Linked DNA regions of Homo sapiens. The protein of the gene in region 1 purifies or fractionates together with the protein of each later gene. This does not show direct contact. Each region holds a gene or a part of one and is shown in the gene's direction. Other genes may lie near its edges.

Region 1 (3,500 bases):
TTATGGAGACGGGGTCTCACTATAGTGCCCCAGCTAGTCTCAAACTCCTGGGCTCAAATTACAAATTATACCAGGTAAATTTATCAAAATGTATGACTTAGAATACATTTTTGTTTTGCTTCTTTTTGACTATATTTGATTTTTAATAGTTTTTAAAAATCTTATTTTAGCTGTAATAAGTGCTATTTATAGGTTTATTTGAGGGCTGTGACCCATGTAATTAGGTGTTTATGAAGTTAAGCCAGAAGGTATATAACATATATATTTTAGTGCTTACAAAGATATTTCTTTAGTAATAGAGGGAATCCCTACTTGGTTATACTTTTTTTTTATTTTAGAAAGAATGTTATAGGTTCTGAGGCCAACATACATACAAAAAACTTACATGTAACCTATACTATACATTGTGATAGAGAAGATAGAGTATTGCAATATCTAGTCATTGTATAGCATTTTAGTAGAAAAATGAATGCACTAATTTAAGATGCTGGAAACACATCTCCTTTCCTTCTTAACTCTTTTTGGTAGGGAATTCTTTTCCCAATTTTTTTCTTTGCTTAGTATAAGCTGAGATTATCTCCTGTTCCAAGTCATGGGAGGAATGCCAGGGTCCTGAAGCAGGATTTTTTTTATATAAAGTTGGTTTCTCCAAACATCAAACCTAGAAACTGTAAAATAAGGATTAATATATTTGATTCTGTAAAATAAAAAAAAGCTTAAAAAAACAGACACACACCAAAAAAAAAAACCTCACCATAAACTAAATCAAAACACACTAAAAACTAAGGGAACTGTTTGCCAGATTATATGTCTAAGGGCTAATTTCCTTTTTTTCTTTTTTTTGAGATAGACTATCATTCTGTCACCCAGGCTGGAGTGTGGTGGTGCAATCATGGCTCCGAATAGCCTCGACCTCCCGAGCTCAAGCAATCCTCCCACCTCAGCCTCCTGAGTAGCTGGGACCACAGGTGTGTGCTACCATGCCCACCTAATTTTTTTTCTTTTTTTCTTTTTTTTTTTTTTTTTTTTGAGACGGAATCTCATTTAGTCGCCCAGGCTGGAGTGCAGTGGCACGATCTTGGCTCACTGCAACCTCTGCCTCCTGGGTTCATGCAGTTTCCGGCTAATTTTTGTATTTTTAGTAGAGATAGGGTTTCAGCATGTTGGCCAGGCTGTTCTTGAACTCCTGACCTCAAGTGACCTGCCCGCCTCAGCCTTCCAAACTATTAAGATTACAGGCGTGAGCCACTGTGCCCAACCATTTTTTTTTTTTTCTCTTTAGAGATGTGTCTCACCATGTTGTCCAGTCTGGCCTTGAACTCCTGGCCTCAAGTAATCCTGCCTCAGCCTCCCAGAGTGCTGGGATTACAGGCGTGAGTCACCATGGCCAACCCTAATTTCTTAATTTACAAAGAGCCCTTATAAATTAGAAAAGGGTGAACAGCACAATGGCAAAATGAACAAAAGGCTGTTAACAGAAAATTCAAAGTTCGAATGGACGTATGCTATTGTCTCATCACCTGCAAAGTGAGGCACCATGAAGGTGAGCCTCTTGCCAGGGCTGAGTTTTTGCTCTATTTCTCCCTACCTCCTTGATGACTTTTTTCCCTCAGATTCTTTCACATACTCTCCTAGTTTCCATCTAGGTTATGCTTTTTCCTCTGACTTGCAGAAACATTGTAATCACACAAATTTTCTCTTCCTGAAGTAGCACAGAGCTCTTTTGAGGTTTTCCAAGTGTGTTTATTACTTATAAAAAAGGAAAAACAGATGGTGAGCCAAAGGTTCCATCTTAGCCTCTGCCCACCTTGTTTTTAAATATAGATCCTGTAAAAAGAGATTAAAACTTCACACAATTGTGGGGTTTTGTTTACACAAAAGACTTAAGTAACATTTTCTGAGGCTTTCATTCCCAGTCTCCTCCAAGAATTAGAATTGGTGTTGTAACTCTGGATTTGTAAGATAAGGTAGACAAGGGCTGAGGAGAGTATAAATACCGCCAGTAGGAGTTGCCCTCTAATAGTGATAGATGTGTTCATTTTTTCTTCTCCCCTTGGTATGAGTAGTCTTTTAGTTAAAAACCTTCTCACTCCCCATTCAACCTTGTCTGTTGAGTCCCAGGTGAAGGACATTTGGGCCCAGGTGGTACTAGCAATCATAGGGGCTTTGAATAATAATAGTAAGTACTCAGTTATTTTTGTGTCCAGATACTGTGCATTATTTTACATGCATTGTATGTGTTTTCTCTTTTAAGTTTCTCAACCACATCATGAAATCCTTATGTAGACTATTGTTCTTATTTTATATATATAGAAAATTGAGGCCAGGTGTGGTTGGCTCACACTGTAATCCCAGCACTTTGTGAGGCCGAGGCAGGCGGATCACTTGATGTCAGGAGTTTGAGACCAGCCTGACCAACGTGGAGAAACCCCTTCTCTACTAAAAATACAAAATTAGCCGGGTGTGGTGGCACATGCCTGTAATCCCAGCTACTCGGGAGGCTGAGGCAGGAGAATCACTTTAACCTGGGAGGGAGGTTGCGGTGAGCCGAGATAGCGCCATTGCACTCCAGCCTGGGCAACAAGAGCGAAACTCCATCTCAAAAAAAAAAAAGAAAGAAAATTGAAGTGCATAAAGTTTAAATAACTAGTCCAAGGTAAGATTATCACCCACTCTAGAACCAGAGCTCTCACTCAGGATGTTTGATTGGGAAGATAAAGTTCAAGATAGCAATAAGTCTGGTGGACAGTAGGTCTGGGGCAAAACAGGGTGGGACAGCCAATGATAAAGTCAGAGAAGCAGAAATGGACTTCATGATTCCTTAGATCGATTCCTGGGATCTTGGTACCAGTTGGTCTTTATACAGACTCCGGTTTTTAGCTCTCTGTACTTTATCTTATGTCTCCTGAAGTGTCTGACACTTCTAGTTTCAGAGTCTCTTTGGGGCACTAAGGTGAATCAGCTGGCCTTTCCCATTGTAGTTTATTAAATATATTCTTGGATTTTTTCAGTCATTAGTAACTTCTGTTTCTACTGCTACTACCCTAGTTCAGGCCTTTATCTCTCACCTGGACTACCTTAGTAGCCTTCAAAATGGTCTCTTGTCTTACCCTATTCTCATCTTTCAAGCAATTAATGTAAAAGTTTTATTATCAATTTTTGAGGGGGGAGATATTTCAGCCTAGTAAGCTTGCTGAGCTTCTTAAATATAAATAGTGAATTCTGAATGGAAGATGCCTTCTTTTACTAGTTAATTTTTTTTTTCCAGACAGTGTTTCATTCTTGTTGCCCAGGCTGGAGTGCAATGGTGTGGTCTTGGCTCACTGCAACCTCCACCTCCTGGGTTCAAGCTATTCTCCTGCCTCAGCATCCCAAGTACCTGAGATTACAGACACCTGCCCCCATGCCCAGCTAATTGTTTTGTATTTTTAGTAGAGACAGGGTTTTACCATGTTGGCCAGGCTGGTCTTGAACTCCTGACCTCAGGCGATCAGCCCACC
Region 2 (3,500 bases), on another chromosome or scaffold:
CTGTTTAATGCAGGAACGATGGCTTGAAAAATACTGAGAAGGGACTCAACTGGTATCATTTTCTACTTTGAATCACTGTATCTATCCAGATGTGGGCTGCAGTAGTGGATTTATGGATTGGGGAAAGTAATCGCATCATGTGTTCCCCCCTGCCCCGCCCCCACCATTAGATTATTATATTTAACAACAACAAAACTTCTGCAAAGCTGTTGAAGTCAAAGTGAACCAGTGGCTCCACCATTATCTTTTTTTTTTTTTTGAGACGGAGTCCCGCTGTGTTGCCCAGGCTGGAGTGCAGTGGCATGATCTTGGCTCACTGCAACCTCTGCCTCCTGGGTTCAAGCTATTCTCGTGCCTCAGCCTCCCGAGTAGCTGGGACTACAGGCGACTGCCACCATGCCCAGCTAATTTTTGTATTTTTAGTAGAGACGGGGTTTCACCATGTTGGGCAGGCTGTTCTCGAACTCCTGGTCTCAAGTAATATGCCTGCCTTGGTCTCCCAAAATGCTGGGATTACAGGCGTGAGCCACTGTGCCCAGCCCACTGTTATCATTAGACTATTCTTTTTAAAATTGTAATGGTGTGGGTAGCTTCAGTTAAGAAAAAAAAAGTCACAAAGATAAGGTGATGGATGTGTAATTGGCTTGAATTAGTCATTCCACACTGTAAACATGTATCAGAACATCTCATTGTACTCCATAAATGTATACAATTATGATTTGTCAATTAAAAGTAATATTAATTTAAAAAAGAAAAAAGACATCTGGGCTGTAATTGGCTGTGGCTTTTAAGATGCTGAAAGGGACCCCCTCAGTGAATTTCATACTTTTTTTTTTTTTTAACCTCAAGGCTCTAACCTAACCCCTGATTCTTATAGAATATGTTGAGGATGTAGTGATTAAAATCCAAGTTAGTGATTAAAGATGATTTTAGAGATTTTTAGGTAGAAACAATGTGTCCAAAATAGTAAGTTTAGCCTTTTAAAAAATCAGCTGCACTTTTTGTATTGTATATAAAATAGTTGCTTTATAGAATCAGAAATACAGATGTATTGAGTACTATGTGTCACTCTAGAAAGGTGACCATTTACTTATTCACATTTAAGAAGCGACTTCTCAGGTATGAAAAGCTTCAGCTGAAGCCAATTTTCTTTTTGTAAAAATCAACATTTTGTAAACATTAAAATGTCACTACATGTGCCTTAAACATTAAGGAAGATTTAATAGATGTCATTTAACTTACTCAAAAGGTTCATGAGACTGAATTACTATTATATGTAGGGTTTGGTTTGAGTCTAAAAGATAATGCAGCTTAGTTACAGAATGCTCAGACTTAGAATGCCTTTCCTTAGGATTTTAAAACTGAAATGATACCTAATTTAATCCAGTTTTATGTAGAGACACTTGATATATGTAGTGTTCTCTTTTGTTTTGAACATTATAAAAAAGAAACACCCTAGTCTTGTCTTTTCTGATTAGTGTCAAGGAATGAAGTATTTTTTCCATTGCTAACTGTTCTGGCAGTTATTGCACAATAAGTCATGTGCCTATATGTGTAATGTATATTGAGTAATCTTTATTTTTAACTGGGGCTTTTAGATATGTTATAGTTATTAAAAAATATCTAATAGGATTTGCCAAAATAATATAGGATAAATCTTATGGACATTATGTATTTTTTAAATGGAAGTATAAAAATTTGTCTACACTTTTGCACATTGTTGATACCTGAAAGGTTAATCCAAGGGAAAGTTTATTACTGCTGAGAATTAGGAAAAGAAGATATTTGGGAAGACTGTAGAAATATGAACCTAGAATCATTTTTTAAAGAGTTTGTAGAAACCTTGATTAAGTAGTCTAATTTTCCCCTCATTTTTTAGATGTGGCTAGCAGATCCAGTGAGGTTAAGTGGAATTCCAAGGCAACAAAGCTAATTCGTAGCAGAGATAGAATTAGAATCTGGGGCCAGTGTACTTTCTACTTTTCCCACCTCTTTAGATCCAGCTGAGGTTAGAACCATAGAACTGTGGATTGGGAGATCTTAATCCATTAAACATCTTTTTTGTATTTAATTTAATTTAAAAAATCAGCTGCAGTTTTTGTATCGTATATGAAATGTTTGCTTTATAGAATAAGAAATACAGACGTAATGAGTACTGTGTGTCTCTCTAGAGAGAGCATTTTAAATCCAGGCATCTTAAGCATACTGACTAACATTTGAGGACTATATATTTATCTATGAACATGAATTAGGAGAAGGAATGATAATCTGTGGAAAGTAAGAGTGGAATATTATGTTTGGATATTTAAATAACTGGCTAACAGGCATTACTGAGTTGTTGAACTACTTTTAGTATCTTTAAAAAGCAGAGGGAGATCAAGACCATCCTGGCTAATGCGGTGAAACCCCGTCTCTACTAAAAATACAAATAATTAGCTGGGTGTGGTGGTGGGCACCTGTAGTCCCAGCTACTCGGGAGGCTGAGGTAGGAGAATGGCGTGAACCTTGGAGGCAGAGCTTGCAGTGAGCCAAGATTGCGCCACTGCACTCCAGCCTGGGCAACAGAGCGAGACTCCGTCTCAAAAAAAAAAAAAAAAAAAAAAAAAAAAAGCGGAGGGCCAGGCGCAATGGCTTACGCCTGTAATCCCAGCACTTTGGGAGGCCAAGGCGGCCGGATCATGAGGTCAGGAGTTTGAGACCAGCCTGACCAACATGATGAAACCCCATCTGTACTAAAAATACAAAAATTAGCCTGGCGTTACTCAGGAGGCTGAGGCAGGAGAATTGCTTGAACCTGGGAGGCGGAGGTTGCGTTGAGCCGAAATTGAGCGACTGCACTCCAGCCTGGGCAACAGAGTGAAAATCCGTCTCAAAAAAAAAAAAAAAAAAAAAGCAGAAATAATTTTGTATTTGATTGTATTGCTTATTATTTAATTTCTTTGGAGGTAAGAATGGCAAAAACCATTTTTAAAGAAAATGGGCTGTGGTTCAAGTCTAGATGTTTTACACATCTGAAACTTGACTGGAGAAGCTAGTCTTCCAATAAGGTGGTCTTCAAGTATAGATTCTGAGTTGTGGAAAATGAGGCATCTTACAAAGGAACATCTCTACCTTCCATAAAGTTTTCTACCCTTCATCCCCGCTCCAATTATTTGTTTTTCCTTGCAGACCAAGAATCTTGAAAGCCAAATGTTCTCATTAAGAAGCTGTTAGAGTGCAATAATGCATTCTAAATGCCTGTCTTAGAAGATATTTCACAAGTTAATGGATTTTTTAAGTTTTTCAAAGATATAGTAAGTGGATGGTTACTGAACATGGATACAAAATACATTGAACCTATAAAAAAGTTACTCAAATATTATTAAAAAATTTTTTTTCTGAAATTTTTTTTGTGTTATCAAAACAATACAGGCTCATTAGCGGAGATGTGAAAAGAATAGTATAAGGTAGAAGAAGCCACTTATTTCTACCATCCAAGATTAACTACTGTCAACATTAAA
Region 3 (3,500 bases), on another chromosome or scaffold:
TGTGTCACGGGGGCCATTTTCTATAAGGAGCATAGACCGTTTGGGGCCTTGTCTCTGAGTATTAGAAACCGAGTTTGCTCTGAGCAATTTGGACCTCCTCGCTGTCCCTTAACTACTGAATTCCATTAGTAGGAGATTGTCTCAAGATTTAAATCCTGTATAAATATCGAGAGTAAATTTCCCAGTCTGCAAGTTTTCATTTTTTATATTGTTAAATAAATTTCTAGCAAGGAACTGGCCTTGTGAAATGCAGCATTGACTGTCCAGTGCAGGCCACCGGGCCTGGCCTGGGCACGCTCTGTGAAATGTGCAGGGGTCTCCAGTGTTGCCTAGGGTCACAGGCCCCAAGTTCTAGATGCAGCTGAGATAGACCTGTGGATTCAGAGCCTCTGACAGGGCCCATGAGTTTATCCTCCTCCCAAGTCCCTCAGTGACTGTGATGGTCTCCAGACTGGGAAGTCCTTGCTTGAGGAGCGCCCCTCGCCTTCCGAGTTCACACACACCCCTCCCCAGGGCCACCTTGGGAGCCAGGACACGTTGGGTGTGAGCACTGCTGCTCTTGCTCCTGCCCCATCCCACCTGAGTGTCACTGTGACAAAGGGCACAGCGGGGAAGGGATGTGGGAACGGCTTCCACCCCGGGTTGCCTCTGGAGCTGGGTGGGTGTCAGTCCTCACAGCCATTGTTTTCCCTCTGCTTCCAGTGGAGTCTCCACCACCATCGACCCCTTCTGGGACATCAGCTTGGATCTCCCCGGCTCTTCCACCCCATTCTGGCCCCTGAGCCCAGGGAGCGAGGGCAACGTGGTAAACGGGGAAAGCCACGTGTCGGGAACCACCACGCTCACGGACTGCCTGCGACGGTGAGAGGCCTGCACCCACACGGCGGGGGCGTGTCTCCTGGCCAGAAGGCTGTGCTCCATCAGGACCAAAGCAGGGCTCTTTCACATGCCCAGGACAGAGCCTGGGCAAAGGTGCAGCATGAGCCTGGATTGGCTGCAGTCTCTTGTGCTAGTTTGTCCTTTGTTTTGGCCAGATGACTCAATATTTCTGTCCCCCAGCTTCGCACAGCACCAGGTGTCAGTGTCAGCAGCTGCTACTCCAACCTCCGCATGTAAATGAACCCAGAGCCAAACTGGCTGCTCCCTTAGCCCTTGCACTAATCACCTACCCCGGAGTGTGAGCTGAGATGCGCCCGGGCCTCTCCCCATGGTCCACGGCCTTCTCTGCACATGATTAAAACTTAGTTGTGATGTTCTGTACTCTTAGGGCTGTTTTTGAAATTGTGCATGTACTGCTTCATTTGGGATAAGTAATAATATTTACAAAGTGATTTTTTTTTTTTTTTTTGAGACAGAGTTGTGCTCTGTCGACCAGGCTGGAATGCAGTGGTGCGATTTCTGCTCACTGCAGCCTCTGCCTTTCAGGTTCAAGTGATTCTCCTGAGTAGCTGGGACTACAGGTGTGCACCACCACGCCTGGCTAATTTTTGTATTTTTAGTAGAGCGGGGGTTTTACCATGTTGGCCAGGCTAGTCTCGAACTCGTGATATCAGGTGATTCACCCACCTCGGCCTCCCAAAGTGCTCACAGGCATGAGCCACCACACCTGTGAGTGATTTTTAAAAAAAAATGTATTTAAGTAGCTGTAGCATACAATTGTAAAGACAGCAGAAAACCTTCCTAAAATTTGTCTATTATTTTATAGCCTTTGTTTTATTTGCATCAATTAAAGGTAATGCAGAAGAGTCCTTGTTGAGTGGAAGTATCCCTTAGAAGAGGTACGAGCCTTTGGTTTCTGTCTGGCTGCATAGTCAGCACGACCAAAGTTGCATGTTTATTTTGTTTTTTGAGATAGGGTCTTGCTCTTTCATGCAGGCTGGAGTGCAGTGGTGCCATCATAGCTCACTGCAACCTCGATCTCCTGGGCTCAGCCTCAGTGTCCAGGGCTCAGCCTTGGTCTCCTGTCTCGGCCTCCTGAGTAGTTGGGACTATAGGTGTGTGCCACCATGCCCAGCTGATTTTGTGATTTTTTTTTTTTTAATTTTTTTTTTTTGAGACGGAGTCTCGCTCTTTCTAGAGTGCAGGCTGGAGTGCAGTGGCGCGATCTTGGCTCACTGCAACCTCCACCTCCCAGGTTCACGTGATTCTCCGGCCTCAACCTCCCGAGTGGCTGGGATTACAGGTGCTTGCTACCATATCCGGCTAACTTTTGTATTTTTAGTAGAGACTAGGTTTCGCCACATTGGCCAGGGTAGTCCCAAACTCCTGACCTTAGGTGATCCGCCTGCCTTGGCCTCCCAAAGTGCTGGGATTACAGGTGTGAGCCAGCATGCCCGGCCAACCAAAACCTTTTTAAAGAAAGTCTTTGCAGCTAAATTAAATTTAATCATAAATTCCAATAAAATGAAAGCTTTGCCAAAACAGCAGGCCATGAGGTAGAAACCACACTTCACAAACTACAATGTGTGGGAAGCCTGTGTTGTTAGGAGAGACATGATGTGGTGCTGACTCCCGGGAAGGTGGAGGAGAGGTAGAGTGCACCCGGGTCCCCACTTTGTATTGCAAGCAAAGGCTCCTTTTCGAGTCCTTTGGAGAGCAGATCACAAAGCTAGCAACGAAACAGGTGCAGCTTTGCCCAGAGGCCCCCTCGTCTTGCCCTAGTTAAGATGGCAGAATTTCCAGAGCATAAATAAGGGCTTTCCATACCTGCTTGTGAAAAGAGTGAATTTTTTGCTGGTGTTTCAGCTTCAAAATTTGGCGTGTGCTTTGTTGAATCATCTGTTCTGCAGGTTTTGTCAGTGGCAGCTGACACCTGTGCCAGACACGCTTCTGATGCAGCCCTCCTACCTCCTGCCTCTGCACGGTCAGGAAATTACCTTTCCCAGTCCTCTTGCCTTTTTTTTTTTTTTTTTTTTTTTTTGAAATGGAGTCTTGCTCTTGTTGCCCAGGCTGGAGTGCAGTGGCACAATCTCGGCTCACTGCAACCTCCATCTCCCAGGTTCAAGCGGTTCTCCTGCCTCAGCCTCCTGAGTAGCTGGGATTATAGGCATGCACCACCTCGCCCGGCTAATTTTGTATTTTTAGTACAGACGGAATTTCTCTTATGTTGGTCAGGTTGGTCTTGAACTTCCAACCTCAGGTGATCCACCTGCCTCAGCCTCCCAAAGTGGTGGGATTACAGGTGTGAGCTGCCGCACCTGGCCGACCTCTCACCTCTCTACATTAAACTGCTTATGTTGAGATCATTGTAGATTCACATGCAGTTGTAAGAAGCCTTTAGGTACCCTTTACCCCGGTCCCCCGATGGTGACCTCCTCAGCACTGTGGTGCGACGCCCTGGCCAGGATTCAGACATTCATGCGGAAAGTACCCAGCATCTCCAGTGCCTCCTCCCTCACCACCCACTCTGTAACCGCAGTCACCCTGGACTCCTGCATTTCCATACGCCTGACAATTCCAGAATGTCATGTCAACTGAATGATATAACGGAACCCTTTGAG
Region 4 (3,500 bases), 8.6 Mb from region 1:
CAGAAGGAACAGTAATACAAAATTTGGCTACGTTGCTGTCTGCTAGGAACAGTTTTCAATTTTGCATTAACAATAAGGCAATTTGAATCACATATTACAAGCAAGCATCTAAAATAATCTGTTTTTCATGCCTGCCTATCTAATAATGTAATGCTATAATTGTTCAGTATATCAAGAGACAAACTCCTTTAAAATATTTTAGGGCTGGGTGCAATGGCTCACACCTGTATTCCCAGCACTTTGGGAGGCCAAGGCAGGAGGATTGCTTGAGGCCAGGAGTTCAAGACCAGCCTGGGCAACATAGCAAACCTCATCTCTAAAAAAAATATATATATATATATATATAGCCAGGCATGGTGGCTCAAGTCTGTAGTCCCAGCTACCCAGGAGGCTGAAGTAGAAGAATTGCTTGAGTCCAAGAGTTCAAGATTGCAGTGAGCTGTGATTGCACCACTGCACTCCAGCCTGGGTGACAGAGTGAGACCTTGACTGTAAAAAAAAAAATTTTAGGTTATGACACTTGAGTCTTAGATTCTATGTCATGTCATTTCCATCTTTAGAAACTTGCATGTTAATCTCCATCAGCTTTAAACTTCTGCAGTTGTGTGCACTCTTCTGTAATCTCCCATTTCCACAGCTTTTCAGCTCTACTAGAAGGAGAGAAGATGGCAACTCCATCAGAATACTTGGCTTGGCTTGGCTTGCCATCTCTTCTGTTTCCTTCTCAGACTTTACTATTCAAATTGGAGTTGCCATCCTCTCTCCTTCCAGGAGGATTCATGTCACTTGTATACATTACCGCAAAGTTCAATAGCCAACTCTTCCAGGAAGCTATATGTAACTTTCTGACTGAGCTAAATAAACAACTTTTTCTCTCATGTGGCATTTCATTTTAAATAATCATATATGTATATATAAAAATATATACACATATGTATATACACACACATATATGCGTGTGTGTATATGCATGCATGTTATGGATGGATATTTGTGTCCCCCAAAAATGTATATGTTGAAATCCTAACCCCCAATATGATGGTATTAGCAGGTAGGGCCTTTGGGAAGTAATTGGGTCATGAGAGTAGTGCCTTCATGAAAGGTAGTGCCCTTATCAGAACAGGAGACAGCCAGCTTCTTTCCTGACTCTGTTCTGTTCCATGTAAGGACACAGGGAGATGATGACCATCCCCAAACCAGGAAAAATGCCCTCACCAGACACCAGACACCTTGATCGGGACTTCCCAGCCTCCAGAACTGCAAGAGATAAATGTTGTTTAAGCCACCCATCTGTACTATTTTGTTATAGCAGCTCAAACACACACACATACACACACACACACACAATCCAAAAATTTGAAATCCAAAATGCTCCAAAATCTGTAACTTTTTAAGCACCAGGACACCACAAGTGGAAAATACTACACATAAGTACTTAACACAAACTTTGTTTTATGCACAAAGTTATTTAAAATATTGCATGAATGGGCCAGGCACAGTGGCTTATGCCTGTAATCCCAGCACTTTGGGAGGTTGAGGTGGGCGAATCACTTGAGGTCAGGAGTTTGAGACTAGCCTGGTCAACGTGGCAAAACCCCATCCCTTCTTAAAAAATACAAAAATTAGCCAGGCATGATGGTGTCCACCTGTAATCCCAGCTACTTAGAGGCTGAGGCACGAGAACCCACAAGGCAGAGGTTGCAGTGAGCCAAGATTTCACCACTGAACTCCAGCCTGGGCAATAGAGTGAGACCCGGGCCAGGTACGGTGGCTCACGCCTGTAATCTCAGCACTTTGGGAGGCCAAGGGGTACAGATCACGAGGTCAGGAGATTGAGACCATCCTGGCTAACACAGTGAAACCCCTTCTCTACTAAAAATACAAAAAATTTGCCAGGTGTGGTGGCACGCGCCTGTAATCCCAGCTACTCAGGAGGCTGAGGCAGGAGAATCACTTGAACCTGGGGGGCGGGTGTTGCAGTGAGTCGAGATGGCACCACTGCACTCCAGCCTGGGTGACAGAGCGAGACTCTGTCTCAAAAAAAGAAAAAAAAATAGAGCAAGACTCTGTCTCAAATATATATATATAAAATACATATATATGTATGTGTGTGTGTATATATATAATATATATGTATGTGTGTGTATATATATGTATGTGTGTATATATATATACTTGAGACAGAGTCTCACTCTATTTATACATATATTTAGTATATATATAATATAATATATATATATATTGCATGAAATCTCTTTCCCTCTCCCCTCCCTCCCTCTTAGGACTTCATTTGAATCTCTTACTGCAAGCTAACTTTTATTAAAATGACCTTTGTATGAGTCTTCTCCTCCATAGATTGGAAGCCCCTATCGAACAAAACCATGTCTTACTAATTTTTTGCATTTGAATATAAGGTACTCAATACTTGTTTGCAAATATAATTTATTTTTAAATTTCTACCGTTCAAAGTTGACAAATTAAACATAACTGGGAGAATTTTTTCCACCATTTCTTTCTTGACACTTTCTGTGCTTTCTCTGTAGGTGCTACTCTTGCCTTGCGGACTAAATTTTCAGCCAGCCAGTTTTGGGATGACTGCAGAAAATACAACGTCACTGTCATTCAGTATATCGGTGAACTGCTTCGGTATTTATGCAACTCACCACAGGTAACACTCCCCCCGTTTTACTATCATTTTGAAATGGGTAAGATGGAAATTCAAGTCACTTTGGGTTGTGCTAGGCTTCAACTGATTTGCATATATCAGTTTTGAGTTTAGGATACAATTATCATGATAAAGTACTTGGCACTATACCTACCATATAGAGGGGACTTAGTAGGTGGGAGTTAATATTATTATTATGATGATGATTATTTCCTGCCTTTTTACTTGTTTTCACATCTTACTCCCCACCTAGCATATCCTGCATTTCCCCCTCTGCTTACTAAAAGCCAGTGTCAAAGCCCAGTTCAAATGATACCTCATACATTAAACATATTTGGGTCACTCCAACAAAAGTCATTACTCTTCTCCCCTACGTCATTTTATTTCTACCCTCTGTGGCCCTTGTCATGTTGCAGGAGTTTGTGTTCATGTCTCCCATCCTTCCTTGGCTGTAATATCTTTGATGGCTGGAACCACATCTTGTCTCCTTGTTTTCTGTTATACCGAAGGCATACAGGAAACTTTTACTTAATGCTGTTTAACAAATAAATCTCTGTGTGACTTTGAAACCAGCCAGCCAAGTCTGTCACCAAGCTGGGAACAGATGCCCCAGGGCATCTCCAATGGCCTTGGATCTGCCCTGTTTGCAGATGTTCAGCTCTCGATGGGGTTGTTCTCAAGAGCTCCTCCTGCCCAGTCCCTCAACTCTCATCAGAGATCTGGTATCAGATAGGATTTATCAATGGTGGCACTGCTGACATTTTGGGCTTTTAATTCTTTGCCGCGCGGACTTATTCTGTGCATTGTAGAGTGTTTAGCACCCTTTGGACTTTGC

Evidence for each region. Proteins that work in one complex are often made in the same cells at the same time.
Region 2: the proteins of MINDY2 (region 1) and ARL8B purify together in Homo sapiens (affinity purification with mass spectrometry; 2 studies listed by BioGRID and IntAct, with this or other methods). This does not show direct contact.
Region 3: the proteins of MINDY2 (region 1) and USP22 purify together in Homo sapiens (affinity purification with mass spectrometry; 3 studies listed by BioGRID and IntAct, with this or other methods). This does not show direct contact.
Region 4: the proteins of MINDY2 (region 1) and SLC27A2 purify together in Homo sapiens (affinity purification with mass spectrometry; 3 studies listed by BioGRID and IntAct, with this or other methods). This does not show direct contact.

The regions. Positions count from the first base shown.
Region 1 is NC_000015.10:58,777,802-58,781,301, forward strand, and holds part of MINDY2 (ubiquitin carboxyl-terminal hydrolase MINDY-2), read left to right. Parts: intron 1-3,500. UniProt on the Homo sapiens protein: Hydrolase that can remove 'Lys-48'-linked conjugated ubiquitin from proteins. Binds to polyubiquitin chains of different linkage types, including 'Lys-6', 'Lys-11', 'Lys-29', 'Lys-33', 'Lys-48' and 'Lys-63'.
Region 2 is NC_000003.12:5,125,292-5,128,791, forward strand, and holds part of ARL8B (ADP-ribosylation factor-like protein 8B), read left to right. Parts: intron 1-3,168; exon of another isoform or gene 3,169-3,500. UniProt on the Homo sapiens protein: Small GTPase which cycles between active GTP-bound and inactive GDP-bound states.
Region 3 is NC_000017.11:21,008,512-21,012,011, reverse strand, and holds part of USP22 (ubiquitin carboxyl-terminal hydrolase 22), read left to right. Parts: intron 1-702; coding exon 703-861; intron 862-3,500. UniProt on the Homo sapiens protein: Deubiquitinase that plays a role in several cellular processes including transcriptional regulation, cell cycle progression or innate immunity.
Region 4 is NC_000015.10:50,202,696-50,206,195, forward strand, and holds part of SLC27A2 (long-chain fatty acid transport protein 2), read left to right. Parts: intron 1-2,543; coding exon 2,544-2,668; intron 2,669-3,500. UniProt on the Homo sapiens protein: Mediates the import of long-chain fatty acids (LCFA) into the cell by facilitating their transport across cell membranes, playing an important role in hepatic fatty acid uptake.